Regions from separate parts of the Homo sapiens genome. Here region 1 is linked to region 2. Evidence: fine-mapped expression QTL. A gene starts in region 2. The other region holds a variant in brackets. All regions are shown on one strand. Distances are between the middles of the regions.

The links.
Region 1: its variant is fine-mapped to the expression of LINC02527 in macrophages (Alasoo 2018, PIP 0.95).

Annotation. Positions count from the first base shown.
Region 1 is chr6:111,871,088-111,879,679 of GRCh38, reverse strand. It overlaps FYN (FYN proto-oncogene, Src family tyrosine kinase), which reads left to right and starts at 6,228. Exons shown (of 14, transcript NM_002037.5): 1 at 6,228-6,712. It overlaps LOC102724646 (a long non-coding RNA gene), which reads right to left and starts at 6,228. Exons shown (of 3, transcript NR_168402.1): 1 at 5,990-6,228; 2 at 3,468-3,629; 3 at 2,370-3,186. RefSeq lists silencers at 6,099-6,188, 6,309-6,558, 6,709-7,108 and an enhancer at 6,157-6,656. The variant C/A (reference allele first, on the strand shown) is at 4,655.
Region 2 is chr6:111,905,898-111,914,489 of GRCh38, reverse strand. LINC02527 (long intergenic non-protein coding RNA 2527) reads left to right here and starts at 5,093. Exons shown (of 3, transcript NR_149099.1): 1 at 5,093-5,564. RefSeq lists an enhancer at 5,696-6,382.

The DNA of each region.
Region 1 (8,592 bases), 35 kb after region 2:
TGATTCTATGAGCCAACCAATAGCTTCCTAAAAAAATTCCTATTCTGCTTAAATTAGACATAGTAGGGTTTTCTTTGTGTTGGTTTTTGTGTTTTGTTGTTGTTGTCATTTTGTTTTGTTTTTGAAACAGGGTCTTATCATGTCGCCTAGGCTGGACTGCAGGTCACTGCAGCCTCAACCTCCCAGGCTTAGGTGATCCTCCCACCTCAGCCTCCCATGTAGCTGGGACTACAGGCTCACGCCATCTTGTCTGGCTAATTATGTATTTTTTATAGAGATGGAGGTTCATGATATTGCTCAGGCTGGTCTCGAACTCCCGGGCTCAAGCAATCCCCCTGCCTCATCCTCCAAAAGTGCTGGGATTACAGGTGTGAGCCACGGTGCCCAGTCAGACATAGTAGGTTTTCGATGCTTGCAACCAAGAACCTTGACTGATACAATAATTTCCTCCTCCTTCAGTTCATTTTTTCCCTTGACAACTTGACAGACAGAATATTTGAATTCTTGAAAGTAGCAAGATAAATGTCATAAAGTCCACATTTCACACAGATGTAGATCACTAAACTAATTAGAAAGCTGAGGCATTATCTCTTTTTCTTTAGGACTACAAGAAGCTATGACCAGGAAAATAACTGAATCATTGAGGGCACACTCTAGGAGCTCTATCAGATAAAAACAAAATGAAAAGCATCTGCTAGCCTCACAGTGTCACTCTTGAGGGTCTCCCGTGGAGTGTCAAGTCAGGGTCAGCTCACCTAAAGAAGATCAGGCCTAATCAACCTGTTCCTGCAAACAGGGGAGTCCAAAGGTTTCTGATCCAGTTTTCTGTACTAGTGTGGGGTGTTCTATTGGCTCCACCACCCTGGAGGAGTCTTAAATACCATCACTGCACTGAGTAGAGCTTGGAAATAGCAGACAGTGAGGAGTCAAGAAAGGGCCAGAGTGAAAGGTATGGCTGGTTAGTATGCAGAAGAAAGGGACAGGCCATCTTATGACAGAACAGCCTCCTTTGTTAGGCTCCTATGGGGTCCCTGCAGGAGGTGTGTTGGGAGATAACTCTATGAAATTAGAAGGGTTTCCATCTAGAACCCCAAGGTTGACTAAGACCCATTCTCAGGCACTTGAACTTCACAAGCTAATAATCCAAGCCACCTTTGGGGAGTCGGGCAAAGAATTAAAGAAGCGCATTTTCAGTCAGTGCCATCCCATTCACCCTCCCTGTGGTCTGTTTAGGATATAGGCCTCTCTTCCTCCCCAGCATGCCTGGCTTGCCCAGTACTGACCCTGACATGTTGAGAGCATCCAAAAGAGGTTCAGTGCACCTGGGTTCTAAAACCATGTTCATAATAACTCCTATCTAGTCAGTCCACCCTCCATCTTTTTAAGAGAAAAGGGAACTGGAAAGCCAAATGCCAAGAGGGCTCTGCTGTGGCCTGTCAGGAGGACCAGCTGTCCAGTATGGACACAATTTAACAAGAGAGACAATGGTAGAAAAGTAGGGCCAGAATCTCAACTTCAGAAGAGCCACAGGTATCTTCCTTCCAGAGGCAGGTTTAACATCACCTACGCTCCTTTCTGAGTTCAGGCTGGGGTGTTGTATGGAATGTCCTTCCCACATGAGATTTTTCCAGGACCATCTCCTGCTGGCTCATGGCAAGCTGTGGACCCAAAATGCCCTAAATCCATTGGCTGTGTTCTAAAGATTGTGTATATAAAAATATGTAACTCTTTATGTATGGACTTGATATGAGGCATCAGAAGAAAGAGGTAAACAGTGAACCAGGTATGCCAAGTACAGACAGGTTAGCCCTGGGGCCACTTTAGCAGTGGTGTCCCACTCTAAGAGTGAAGGGGTTTTTTTGCTTGTTTTTTTCATTTTGTTTTGTTTTGAGACAGGGTCTCACTCTGTTACAGCAGTGCAATTAGAGCTCACTGCAGCTTTGACCTCCCAGGCTCAAGCAATCTTCCCATCTCAGCCTCCCAAGTAGATGAGACGGCAGGTGTACACCACCACACCTGGCATTTATTTTTTTTGTAGAGATGGGGTCTTGCTGTGCTGTCCAGGTTGGTCTCAAACTCCTGGGCTCAAGCAGTCCTCTGGCCTCAGCCTCCCAAAGCACGGGGATTACAGGCACGAGCTATCATGCCTAGCCTCAAAGTGAAGTTTTATAAGAATCATTCCTGCAAGTCCCAGAAGACCCACCAGAAACAAGAAGGGTGTCTGTGGGTGGATGGAAGCAGAAGGCCTCCCTCTGGTCCTGGTCTTGATTCCTGAACACTACCCTGGGGCAATATGCCTTCAAAAGGGAGGAAAAACAGCAGACAGGAGGCAGAGGAAGAAAAACGAGAATTAAAGTAGCAAAAAAAGGTACAAGTTTAAAATAAGTTTTTATTGTTTTTTCTAATAACATAATAAATGCCCAATGTAAAAAGTTGAGGAAATTAAGAAAAAGATAAAAAATAAAATAACAATGACCTAAAATATGATTACTTGGAGGAAATGATCATTAAAATTTTTGTGTATGTATTGCTTTCTATGAAAATTTACACATATAAATAAGTTTAAAAATAATGGAAATATATGTGTATTAATACATATATATAAACATACATATGTACACATACAAACACAATACTAATTTATTAGCTCTTCTTAATTTTAATTTGTTGTGAACATCTTTCCACACAAATAAATAAATAAATGGCAATGTTATAATTTTATGGCTATATAGTATTCTATTATAGATATAACATAATTTACACACCAAATCCCTTATCAATGAACTTTTCTCAGTGTTTCACTATTATAAACAATGTTCCAATTATTCCCATGATATGTGCGCTTGTGTTTGTGTATTTGCAAATTTGTTCCATTCTTTCCCAGAAGTAAAATTGCTAAGTCAAATGTATACATTTTTTTAAAAGGCTTTTCACAAATGCTATTAAACTGCCTTCCAGCAATGTTGTACCAATTAAAAATTCCACTAGTAGGGTATGGATATCCATTTTCCTGTTGAACCTCCTATCACATTTACTGGCCATTTTGGGTTTTGTTTCTGTTGCACATATTTTTCAGTTCGAACGTTCATCTTTATTTTCTTGTTGATTTGTAAAAACTCTACATTGAGGGTTTTTACCCTTGCCATATGTGTTGTTGTTGAGTTGACATTTAAGAGAAGATTAAAACTAAAATAAAATAATAAGACAAGAAAATGTTTTAGCTAATAAAAATAAGAAAAAAAAGTTACTTTAAAAGCAAGATATAAGATTCAGATGAGACAAGTTCAAGAAAGCCAGAATAGAAAGAGGAAACTTTAAGGTAAAACAAGTAGAAAAATACAAAATATATAAACAATATCAATAAAATCAAAGAGAAGTTCTAGAACAATGACTACATTCTAATTTGTATAATAGAAGCTACTCATAAGAAAACAAAACTGGTGGTTGTGGAAGACAATATTACTTACCTTGGGTAGGCCAGGGACAGCGTCTCAGATCTTTAATCAAGTTCTTGGTAGAGATTGGCAGAAAAGATCAAAACGGGAATAGTATACAAATCTTTTGCAGTGCTCTATTCACTTGTTCAGACCATTAGCAAATCCTCCTGAGGAGTCCAAATCCATTTAAAGCTACATTTAAGACGGGCAACAGATAAAAAAGTAGGTAAGCAAAGAATTACAAAAAACAGGATGAAGTCTTGATGGGAGCAGGTTAATCTGTCATTTTAATCACATTGTCTCTTTGTCCACTAATTAGATCAAGAAGCTATTACAGTTGCAGACACTAAGAAGTGACTTCTCGTGAAGAAACAGAGAGAGAGGAGGAGAGAGGGAGAGAGAGAGAGAGAGAGAGAGAGAGGACTTATCCCACCTACTCCAGATTTCCAGATTTAGCGTAAGATAGATTGAACTAAACATGAGATTTCAAGGAGATATATAGCCTAAGAGTGTTTTTTTCTTGAGAGCATATGACACTTAGTCTGTCCGGAATAGTTTGAGAACAGTTTTACTATTTTTCCCATTTTACGTATGAGGACACTAAGGTTCAAAAAGGATAAGCGACTTGCTTCATCAAAGCGCTCCCAACAGTGAACTGTGGAGCTGGAATCAGAAACAACTCCAGACCAGTGCTGCCCGATAGAGATATAACTTGAGCCACATAGGTTATTTAAAATTTTCTAGTAGACGCATTTAAAAAATAAAAGAAACAATTTAATTAACTCTAATAATGTTTTATTTAGCACAGTACATTTAGACTATCATTTTAACATGTAATCAATATTAAAATGGGATACTTTACATTCCATTTTTCATGCTTGATCTGAAATATCTAATACATCTTTTACATTTACAGCACATCCTAATTTGCAGTAGCCAAATTTCCAATACTGAAGTACATTTCAAGTACTTAACAGTCATGTGGCTAGTGGCTACCTCCTCGGACAGCCCAATTCTAGAACTATGGTCCTCAAGGTGCTGTCTCCAGATTGGCTGTATCAACATCACCTGGGAACTTGCTAAATGTGCAAATTCTTGGGCACCATCCCAAACCCCCTAAATCAGAACCTCAGGTGGTTAAACACAGCAATTCATGTTTAAGCAAGCCCCTTCAGTTATTTCTGATACATGTCAAAGTTTGAGAACCATTGCTCTAC[C/A]CAACTGCCTCTGCATCCCAATCCAAATAAACCCAGAGCAGCCATTGCGGACTAGCCCTGAGGACGAAGAGCCTCTGCTCTTGAGATAAGCAATTCTTGGCTAAATGAAGCTGGCTTTCTCTTGTATGGAAATATCCTAGTCCTAGCTATGGTTCCATTTCTTGGGATTATGGAATTTCCAGACACAATTTAAACATGGTTTAATTTGTCATTTTGTTTAAGGAAAAGGAAAAAAATCCAGTAACCTCTGTATACTGTCACCTTGAGTTAGTTACTTAACTTTTCTTTTCCTCAGTTTCCTCCTCCATAGGATGCAGATCATTTAATAAATGTTAGCAACTTTTCTTAAAAAGTAGTGTGTACAAAAAGAAAAAAGTCAGCAAAAGGGACAGATTTTTTTAAACTACAGTAAAAACAAGTAGTGGGCCGGAAAGGCAATATTATAGATTTTGAGCACAGAAGCAGAAGCTGATTCACTTATAATTTCTTAGAACATTAGATTTGCTGAGGGGGAAGGTAGGGTTCTTGCCAAAATCATTAAGGAGAGCGATTCTGAGTATGCCTTAAAGCAGAACTTTCAGTAAACAGGAATTACCTATAAAGAAAATCAGGAAGCCAAAGTGTTTCTTTTTATGAAGTTACATCCTGCCATAGAAAAGCTGGATAGGAAATAAAGACCGATGCACTCCCAACTGTATACTAAACCGGCAATTATTTCATCAAGGGAAATATGAGCAAAAGCTCAGATTCAGTGAAGGGGAAAAAAACATGAGAAGTTTGAATGTTATGAGAAACCAAAGACAACCAATGACTACAATTAAACGAGGTTTTTTGGGGGTGGGGCGGGGAATGTACGAACAAATCTCTGTCATTTCAGGTTCCTTAGTCGCCGCTTGGCCCCTCCCCCTATTTCAGTAATACTTCCTCCAGACTTTTGCTAGAAAAAAAATATAAATGAGTGTCCGCAGAAATAGGGGACTGATAAAATGATCCTAATCTCCTTCTCCTCCTCATTGTTATTTGTTGTGCGTTTCCACGTTTCAGGACAGGATTCTACTTTGCTCCGTACTCTTTTCAGTTTGATCAAAGAAAACGCTGCTATCACCGCCCAATTTTCCATTTCATCCTCTCACCCTCAAATGAAAAGACACCAGAAAGGCAAGATAGCCCTGTCTCGAGGCAGTTTCCCATGGTTTTGGGGGAATGGCAGGTGCCAATCTGCAGCAGCAGCTGCAACCTTCCGCAAAGCGGAAACTGCAGTTCACACTCTCCGCTCTTTCTCCCGCCCTACTCCGCCACCTCACAACTCCACACAATCCTTAAAAACACACAGACCTCCTCCTCCAACCTCGCATTTTCTTGCACACCCTGCACCGCACGCACCCTGGGATGCCCGCTGCCACAGTAACGCTCAACCCACTCGGCGGCCCCACCTACTGCCGTCCCGCCCACGCCCCAGGCGCCAATGGTTGCGGCTCGCAGCTCCCAAGGGGCTCTTTGATAGGGCAGCCGGGCCTGTCACTCTCGAGGCGCGCCCCGCCCCCTCCTCGCTCCCCTCCGGAGCTGGAGGGGCAGAGCATCAGCAAGAGTAGCAGCGAGCAGCCGCGCTGGTGGCGGCGGCGCGTCGTTGCAGTTGCGCCATCTGTCAGGAGCGGAGCCGGCGAGGAGGGGGCTGCCGCGGGCGAGGAGGAGGGGTCGCCGCGAGCCGAAGGCCTTCGAGACCCGCCCGCCGCCCGGCGGCGAGAGTAGAGGCGAGGTTGTTGTGCGAGCGGCGCGTCCTCTCCCGCCCGGGCGCGCCGCGCTTCTCCCAGCGCACCGAGGACCGCCCGGGCGCACACAAAGCCGCCGCCCGCGCCGCACCGCCCGGCGGCCGCCGCCCGCGCCAGGGAGGGATTCGGCCGCCGGGCCGGGGACACCCCGGCGCCGCCCCCTCGGTGCTCTCGGAAGGCCCACCGGCTCCCGGGCCCGCCGGGGACCCCCCGGAGCCGCCTCGGCCGCGCCGGAGGAGGGCGGGGAGAGGACCATGTGAGTGGGCTCCGGAGCCTCAGCGCCGCGCAGGTAAGCAGGCGGCGGGGATGCGTCGCGGGAGGCCTCGGGGATGCTGCGGAGAAGCCCGGCCGCCGGCGCCCCCGCGCACGCCGCCCCCGCCGCAGGGCCCGGTGCTGCGGTCCCTTGGCCGCCAGGGCGCTCCGCGGGGCTGCCGGGGAGTCGGTGCTTGGGGTCTTCCCGCGGTTGCACCGGAGGACACCCCTGCGGGGTGCGGCCCCGAGGCAGCGCGGGGATGGGGACCCCATTTCCTCGCCCGCAAGCGGGCGCCGGGTGAAAATGGGAATTGGCTTGGGGGCGAGGCTGGCCCAGACTCCGCCCCCGCCCTCCTTTTGGGGCCCCCCGCGGGGACTGGGGCTGTGTGTGTTGTTTTAATGTCAGGGATGATGTAATCACTTAATAATTGATGCCCCGTGCTGCTTCCCTCCCCACCCAACCCCTGCCCCACTCCTCCACCTCTCGGCCTCCTCCCTCGGCGGCGGTCGCCTTCTCCAACCCATCCTCCTGCCTATTTCTGGCACCTCCCTTGCACTTCCCCCATCCTCCCCTTCACTCTTCCTGTGCCACCACCCACCCACCCTTCCCCTTTCCCCTGTGCTGGAGCCTTCCCTCCTCTTCCTCTGTCCCCCACCCCTCTGCTCCCTCCAGCTCTTTTCTCCTTCCTTTCCGGCTCCCTCGCTGGATTTCCTCTCTACTTCCCTAGATCCATGGCTGTTTTTGTTTGGGCTCCTCCCCTCTGTTATCTCTGCGGCCACAGGCGGAGGGGACTGGGCCAGAAGGAGGCCACCGAGCTTGGGCCCAGCAGAGATGTGCTGGGACTCACTGGGAAGAGGGATAATAAAATCACCCTTCTTGCCCCTCCTTCCCCCAATAAATCACACAGACTCGCCGGGTGTGTGAGTGTGAGTGTGACACAAAGAGCCCTTTCAGTGCATAGAGAGGAGACACACAAAGTACCCTAGGATAGGCACGATGCTTCTTGTCTCTCTTCCCTGGGGCTTCCCTTTCTTTCCCATGAAGCAGTTGATCTCTCTGAGTCTTTCCTGCCACATTTACCAAAAAATAAAAGAACCCCCGGATGCCGGGTGGCAGGTGTCGGCATTTTGCTGTGTTCAGAGACCGGTAGTGTTGACTGGCAGCTGCAGTGTTTCTTAGATTTAAGGGAACAGTTATCCCAGCAGTCTTAAGAGTTGCTTTACTTTTAAGGTAGCCTCCCCATCCCCTCGTTCTTTCCCCTGTCCTTTTGGGAACAAGTACTAAGAGCTGGGGTAGAGTAGATTGGTGTGGGGGTCACAAGAATTTTGTTTCTGAATCAGAATTAAATTGTTATTTGATAAGAGGGAGGCAGCCTGAATGGCTTCTTCTCTCAAGTCTAAGAGGGCACTGTACTGAAGTCTTTTGAAATGAAATCCTGTCTGCCCAGTGATGTTGTTTTACCCTTTTATTGAAGTAAATACCTGGGGACGTGGATAAAACGGTCTAGAGTTAGCATTTGGAAGACCACTGCAGACTGCCTCTTGCCTGCTTCAAGGTAGTCTTGGGACGCCTACTTCCTTTCTCACCACCCAAGCAACTGCAATACTTTCCACCCTATGTACTGTCTTCTTCCCCAGTCCCTGCTCCATGGGTACCCTGTATTCAGATGAAGGGACTCACAGACTTTTGGAGGAAGTGGTTTAACTATCTGAGGCTTTGAGGCCACTTGGCTATGAACTGGGGCTGTAGAGAATCTTGACTGAAGTCTAAACCATTTGATGTTCCCTTTAAGGAAGAAATGTTAATGTAAATCTGGGGGCTTAATGTTCCGTTTTGTAAGCCAGTGACTATTACATGCTTAATCGATATTGTCAAAACTTAAGTTGAACCTGTTCTTTCCTAAAAGTATGGCTCCT
Region 2 (8,592 bases):
AGCAGTATTTCTCAAACTTTAGCGTGCATACAAATTACCTACCAGGCATCTTAAATGCAAATTCTGATTCAGCAGGTCTAGGGGTGAGGCCCGAGGATTTGCATTTCTAGCAAGCTTCCAGGTGATGCTGATGCTGCTGGTCTAAGGACCACACTCTGATTTGATTAGGCAGGAACTAGAAGTGTATATATGTGTATATATATATATATATATATATATATATATAAGCATATATAGAAATATATGTGTATATACACATATATAGAGATAAATATATATATTTTTATGAGCACATTTTTAAAAATATATATTATATATAAAATATATATTATATATAATAAAAATGTGCTTATAAAAATATATATTTTACATATAATATATAAATATGTTATATATTATATATAAATATGTTATATATAAATATGTTATATATTATATATAATATGTTATATATAAATACGTTATATATAATATGTTATATATAAATACGTTATATATAATATGTTATATATAAATACGTTATATATAATATATAAATATATATTATATATAATATATTATATTAAATATATATTATATATAATATATTATATATAAATATGTTTATATATTATATATAATGTGCTTATTATTATATATAATTATATTATATATAAAACTATATAAAAATGTGCTTATAAGAAATATATATTATATATAAATATATATAATATATATTATATTTTTTATAAGCACATTTTTTTAAATGCTAAAATCACTAATCATTAGGGAAATGCAAATCAAAACCACAATTAAATATTGTCCATGAGGATGGCTACCATCGGAAACAAAAGACAAAAAAAACAGAAAATAAGCAGTGGCTAGGATGTAAAGAAATTGGAACCTCTGTGAACTATTTGTGGGGGTGTAAAATGGTGAAGCCAATATGGAAAACAGTATGGCACCATTCCTCAAAAAGTTAAGCATAGAATTACCATAAGATTCAGCATTTCACTTATGGGTATATACCCCCCCAAAAAATTGACAGCAGGGACTAGAAGAGGTATTTGTACACCCATGTTCATAGGAACATTAGTCACAGTAGCCAAAAGGTGGAACCAACCCAAGTAACCATTGATAGATGAATGGATAAAAATGTGGTATATACATAAAATGTGTATGTATATATATACATATATACATAGCGCCTTTAAAAGGAAGGAAATTATGACACATGATACAACATGGATGAACCTTGAAAACACTATGCTAAGTGAAATAAACCAGTCACACACACAAAAAAATACTGTGTGATTCCATTTCTATGAGGTACCTAGTGTAGTCAAATTCAGAGACCAGAAAATAGAATGGTGGGTGCCGGGGGCTGTCGATGGGGGAAAATAGGGAGCTCTTGTCTCATGGGTACAGAGTTTCAGTTTGTGATGATGAAAAAGTTCTAGAAATGAATAATGGTGATGATTGCATAACAATGTGAAGGTGCTTAAAGCCACCTAATTGTACACTTGACAATGGTCAATATGATAACTTTTATTATATACATTTTACCACAATTTTTTAAATTAAGGAACATAGCTGAAGACTGTAATAAATAGATAGATATATCCAGTGTTGGTAAAGTTACAAGGCATGTGATACTCTTATATTATCAGTGAAGGAGGAGTGGAAGAGAGATAAATTGGTACAAGTTTCTGAAGGATAATGTGACAATATAATTTTGCCTACCTTTTAACCTATAAAGTTTATTATTGGGTAAATATGATATGTGCAAATATTAGGCTAAAGAGCAATCCATAACAGTGCTATTTATAAGAACAAAAACATAAAAACTTCTTAAATGTCCAAAACTATGGGATTGGGTAAGTATGGCACATTAGCTATGAAATGGAATAAATGCATTCTTTTAAAATGATATTTAGAAGAATATTCAATGATCTGGAAGTGTATGCACAATTTAGTGGGTGGAAAAAGCAGGTTACCAAATGTAGGTACAACATACATGTAAAAAACAGTAAAAAATATTAACAGTGAGTATGTAGGGAAGTGTATTCTAAGTTATTTTCTTCCTTTTGCCTATCTATATTTTCTATCTTTTTTGGGTAAGGAGCTTTTATTACTTTGGGATCAAGAAGTAAGTAACTTTTCGGCCAGGCGGGGTGGCTCACACCTGTAATCCTAGCACTTTGGGAGGCCAAGGCAGGCAGATCACTTGAGGTCAGGAGTTGTAAACCAGCCTGGCCAACATGATGAAACCCCATCTCTACTAAAAATACAAAAAAAAAATTAGCTGGACATCGTGGCAGGTGCCTGTAATCTCAGCTACTTGGGAGGCTGAGGCAGGAGAATTGCTTGAACCAGGAAGTCAGAGGTTGCAGTGAGCCAAGATGGAGCCACTGCACTCCAGCCTGGGTGACAGAGTGAGACTCTAACAACAACAACAACAAAAGTAAGTAACTTTTAAAAATAATTTTTTAAGACCCTGGATAAATCTTGGGGCAAAAGGGTCTAATCATTCACTGGTCCATAGTGGGAGATATCCACTTTAAATTATTTAAAATGTTAAAGCAGTGAGAAAACTTAGAGAGGAAACTCTAAGATGCTCTTCCTCTTTAAAATTAGGAAACAAAGTATACAGACTTATAAGTACGCTGAAAAAGGCGGCTATATTATTTCAGATTCAGTTTGGCTGGGAGTAACAGTACTTTGGACGCACAGGTTTTTATTCACTTAAGCAAAATTTCTAGAGTTCTGCAGCTAGGACTGAAGCGGTGTCCCGCGGTATCTCAGGGAGCAGATTTTTGTCTTGTTGCTCTACTCTCCTCAGCATTTAGCATTTAGCTCATGAGCCAGCACAGCTGTTGGAGCTCCAGCCATCACATCTGAGAACTGGAAGTAGAAAGAGAGAACACCCACCCTCTCACTTTAAGGACACTTCCTGGAAGCTACTCACAACGTATCTGCTACACGCTAATAACCAGAACTCTGTCACCTAATTGAACAGGAATGGAAAGCAGGTCAGAAAACACAGTCTTTACTGCATGTGAGTCTGCGCTCAGCTAAAAATCAGAGTTTGGTTACTAAGGCAGAAAAGATCTCAGGGTACAGCTTTCTCTCTCCGCAGCTGCCTCACTACATATAGGATTGGCAATAGATTGGAATAGTGTCTCTCCTACACTACACTCGCCCAGCAGAGAAAGGCACATCAGAACTCTTACCCTTTCTGACTATGGAGAGTGGGAAAATCACCACGCTCTTCAATATGGAGTTTATTTAAAAATTCTATTTGCTAAAGTTTTAAATTATAATATATTTATCCAGTGTTACAATGAAAGAGACGCAAACAGGGAGACAATTCTATTTAAAAAAAAAAAAAAACTAAAGGATCCCATCTCCATAAATATCCAGTACAAGCTTTTGTAACCTCTTCTGATAATCACTTTTTACATGATTATGTTCTTCAAGATATATGCACAGCATTATAATCGCTGTGCAATGCTGTTATATTTTTTCACTTCGTGTTATTTAAAATATGCTCTCTGCTCTCTCATATGTCCATATCGTCAATATACCTACCATTTTTCATGCCAAAATATTGAATCAATGTAGCAATTATACCTATGTTACCAATTATAGGACATTTTCATGACTTCCAGTTGGTTTTGTGTTTGTTGTTGTTTTGTCACACAAATAGAATAGCTATAAACGTCCTAGTGCAAATAAGCATTTCTTTCTTCTAAGAACTTCTTTAGAATAAATTGTCAAACATGCGACTATCAGAGCAAGGACCATGGCCAATCTGGTGGCTCCTATGTGAACTATATTCTCTCCAGGAAATTCTCTAATCATCAAGGTATCTACATCATTTAATGATGCTATTTTGTCCTCAGCTCTGCCAAATATAAATTTCTACAACATTTAATGGTTTCTAATTTACTGGGGATATGGTGATATGAACTAAATCACTTGAGTCTGAATATATTTAAATGTTTTTTAAGCAGAACATCATTGATGTTTATTTACTATTTATGTTTTTAATCCCTTTGAGTCATATATCCATTCCTATTTTGCAATCTGACTACAATTAGAAACTGCTGTTGTAAATTTACACCAGTTCCTCTTATCTTCTGAACCCCAAATGTGTATCTTATCATTTTTATTATGAATGATCTTCCTTTCTGTTGCTTTTCTTCCCCCTGCTCCCTCCTTAGGGGTGCTCAAATGAAAGAGAAAAGTTTAAAAAGCAACATTTGTTAGAAGACATAATGATGCACATTTCTGCTCAACTGGGAGTACATTGTCTGCTGGGGCCAAGGTCTGGGAGGTATGTTTCCTATTAGAAGAAGCAGGTTCCTAGGTTCTCTCTGCTGCCCACAGAAATGGCAGGACTTGGAATGCAGGGGCAGCACAGTGTGTACTCAAGACAAAAGACAAGTAAAGGAAGCAAGATACTGTGCCCAGGCCATTCTAAGGGCCTACTGGCAGGCATTTTTCAGACCATATAGGTGGACTCCTAGTTTTCCATGGGATGCATTCCTAAAAAAGCATTTTCATTTGAATGTCTGAAAATCACACATTGGGATACATGTTACGGATTTATGGATTGGGGGAAGGCTGAAAAAACATTGTGAATCCCTAATTATTGGGTCCTTAGATACTGCTTATCTCAGGCCTGAGCCACTCAGTGAACAGAAGAGAGACTATTGAGCCCAACAACTTCTCCTCCTTTGTATTAGGTTGGTGCAAAAATAACTGTAGTTTTTTGCCATTAAAAGTAACAGCCAAAACCACAATTACTTTTGCACCAACCTAATACCCCTTCTCTGATCCATTTACAGGCCCCCTGCAGAAGGTCATGATGCCCTCAGTCTTTACACTTGAACTCTGGGACTCTCTAGTTACCTGGAGAAGAGGTGGCACTGTTTTCTAACATGGAGACAGACACAACACAAACAAACATATAAAAGCTAAAATCTGAAAAAGCAAGTAAATAAGCATGATAATTACCAACTTATGCAATAAAGGATATAGGCAAGGTGACGTCAGAAAGAGTAATTTGGAGGTGGTGCTATTTAAGATAACATCATCAGGGAGGCCCTCCCGGAGACGGGGACATTTGAGCTGAGATGCAAAAGATGGTAGACACACAAAGAGCAGAGAAGGGTATGCCAGGAAGAGGGAGCAAGCCAAGACCCTCCAGCTAGTGGAGAGTTGGGGCCTGCAGGAACTGAAAGGCAGGAGGGCAGAAGGGCAGAGGTGCAGGAGGGCAGAAGGGCAGAGGTGCAAGCAGGGGCCACCTCCTGGATGAGTTTAGAGACCATGGTGAAGCCAAGTTAAAAGACAGACATTATAGAAATATGATTGGACAAAGCAGGATTTAAAATGCTGTTTAAACAATGCTATTTTCTGTTGTGTCTGCTGTATTCTATATTACATTGCATTTAACTATAAAGATATTTTAGAGAGCAGGGGAGTGGAGGAGCCAAGATGGCCGAATAGGAACAGCTCTGGTCTACAGCTCCCAGCGTAAGCGACGCAGAAGACAGGTGATTTCTGCATTTCCATCTGAGGTACTGGGTTCATCTCACTAGGGAGTGCCAGACAGTGGGCGCAGGTCAGTGGGTGCGCGCACCGTGCGCGAGCCGAAGCAGGGCGAGGCATTGCCTCACTTGGGAAGTGCAAGGGGTCAGGGAGTTCCCTTTCCGAGTCAAAGAAAGGGGTGACGGACTCACCTGGAAAATTGGGTCACTCCCACCCGAATATTGCGCTTTTTGGACCGGTTTAAAAAAACGGCGCACCACGAGATTATATCCCGCACCTGGCTCGGAGGGTCCTACGCCCACGGAGTCTCGCTGATTGCTAGCACAGCAGTCTGAGATCAAACTGCAAGGCAGCAGCGAGGCTGGGGGAGGGGCACCCGCCATTGCCCAGGCTTGCTTAGGTAAACAAAGCAGCGGGGAAGCTCGAACTGGGTGGAGCCCACCACAGCTCAAGGAGGCCTGCCTGCCTCTGTAGGCTCCACCTCTGGGGGCAGGGCACAGACAAACAAAAGGACAGCAGTAACCTCTGCAGACTTAAATGTCCCTGTCCGACAGCTTTGAAGAGAGCAGTGGTTCTCCCAGCACGCAGCTGGAGATCTGAGAACGGGCAGACTGCCTCCTCAAGTGGGTCCCTGACCCCTGACCCCCGAGCAGCCTAACTGGGAGGCACCCCCCAGCAGGGGCACACTGACACCTCACACGGCAGGGTATTCCAACAGACCTGCAGCTGAGGGTCCTGTCCGTTAGAAGGAAAACTAACAAACAGAAAGGACATCCACACGAAAAACTCATCTGTACATCACCATCATCAAAGACCAAAAGTAGATAAAACCATGAAGATGGGGAAAAAACAGAACAGAAAAACGGGAAACTCTAAAACGCAGAGCGCTTCTCCTCCTCCAAAGGAAAGCAGTTCCTCACCAGCAACGGAACAAAGCTGGATGGAGAATGACTTTGACGAGCTGAGAGAAGAAGGCTTCAGACGATCAAATTACTCTGAGCTACGGGAGGACATTCAAACCAAAGGCAAAGAAGTTGAAAACTTTGAAAAAAATTTAGAAGAATGTATAACTAGAATAACCAATAAAGAGAAGTGCTTAAAGGAGCTGATGGAGCTGAAAACCAAGGCTCGAGAACTACATGAAGAATGCAGAAGCCTCAGGAGCCGATGCGATCAACTGGAAGAAAGGATATCAGCGATGGAAGATGAAATGAATGAAATGAAGCAAGAAGGGAATTTTAGAGAAAAAAAAAAAAAAGAAATGAGCAAAGGCTCCAAGAAATATGGGACTATGTGAAAAGACCAAATCTACGTCTGATTGGTGTACCTGAAAGTGATAGGGAGAATGGAACCAAGTTGGAAAACACTCTGCAGGATATTATCCAGGAGAACTTCCCCAATCTAGCAAGGCAGGCCAACGTTCAGATTCAGGAAATACAGAGAATGCCACAAAGATACTCCTCAAGAAGAGCAACTCCAAGACACATAATTGTCAGATTCACCAAAGTTGAAATGAAGGAAAAAATGTTAAGGGCAGCCAGAGAGAAAGGTCGGGTTACCCTCAAAGGGAAGCCCATCAGACTAACAGCAGATCTCTCGGCAGAAACCCTACAAGCCAGAAGAGAGTGGGGGCCAATATTCAACATTCTTAAAGAAAAGAATTTTCAACCCAGAATTTCATATCCAGCCAAACTAAGCTTCATAAGTGAAGGAGAAATAAAATACTTTACAGACAAGCAAATGCTGAGAGATTTTGTCACCACCAGGCCTGCCCTAAAAGAGCTCCTGAAGGAAGCGCTAAACATGGAAAGGAACAACCGGTACCAGCCGCTGCAAAATCATGCCAAAATGTAAAGACCATCGAGACTAGGAAGAAACTGCATCAACTAACGAGCAAAATAACCAGCTAACATCATAATGACAGGATCAAATTCACACATAACCATATTAACTTTAAATGTAAATGGACTAAATGCTCCAATTAAAAGACACAGACTGGCAAATTGGATAAAGAGTCAAGACCCATCAGTGTGCTGTATTCAGGAAACCCATCTCACGTGCAGAGACACACATAGGCTCAAAATAAAAGGATGGAGGAAGATCTACCAAGCAAATGGAAAACAAAAAAAGGCAGGGGTTGCAATCCTAGTCTCTGATAAAACAGACTTTAAACCAACAAAGATCAAAAGAGACAAAGAAGGCCATTACATAATGGTAAAGGGATCAATTCAACAAGAAGAGCTAACTATCCTAAATATATATGCACCCAATACAGGAGCACCCAGATTCATAAAGCAAGTCCTGAGTGACCTACAAAGACACTTAGACTCCCACACATTAATAATGGGAGGCTTTAACACACCACTGTCAACATTAGACAGATCAACGAGACAGAAAGTCAACAAGGATACCCAGGAATTGAACTCAGCTCTGCACCAAGCGGACCTAATAGACATCTACAGAACTCTCCACCCAAAATCAACAGAATATACATTTTTTTCAGCACCACACCACACCTATTCCAAAATTGACCACATACTTGGAAGTAAAGCTCTGCTCAGCAAATGCAAAAGAACAGAAATTATAACAAACTATCTCTCAGACCACAGTGCAATCAAACTAGAACTCAGAATTAAGAATCTCACTCAAAACCGCTCAACTACATGGAAACTGAACAACCTGCTCCTGAATGACTACTGCATACATAACGAAATGAAGGCAGAAATAAAGATGTTCTTTGAAACCAATGAGAACAAAGACACAACATACCAGAATCTCTGGGATGCATTCAAAGCAGTGTGTAGAGGGAAATTTATAGCACTAAATGCCCACAAGAGAAAGCAGGAAAGATCCAAAATTGACACCCTAACATCACAATTAAAAGAACTAGAAAAGCAAGAGCAAACACATTCAAAAGTTAGCAGAAGGCAAGAAATAACTAAAATCAGAGCAGAACTGAAGGAAATAGAGACACAAAAAACCCTTCAAAAAATTATTGAATCCAGGAGCTGGTTTTTTGAAAGGATCAACAAAATTGATAGACCGCTAGCAAGACTA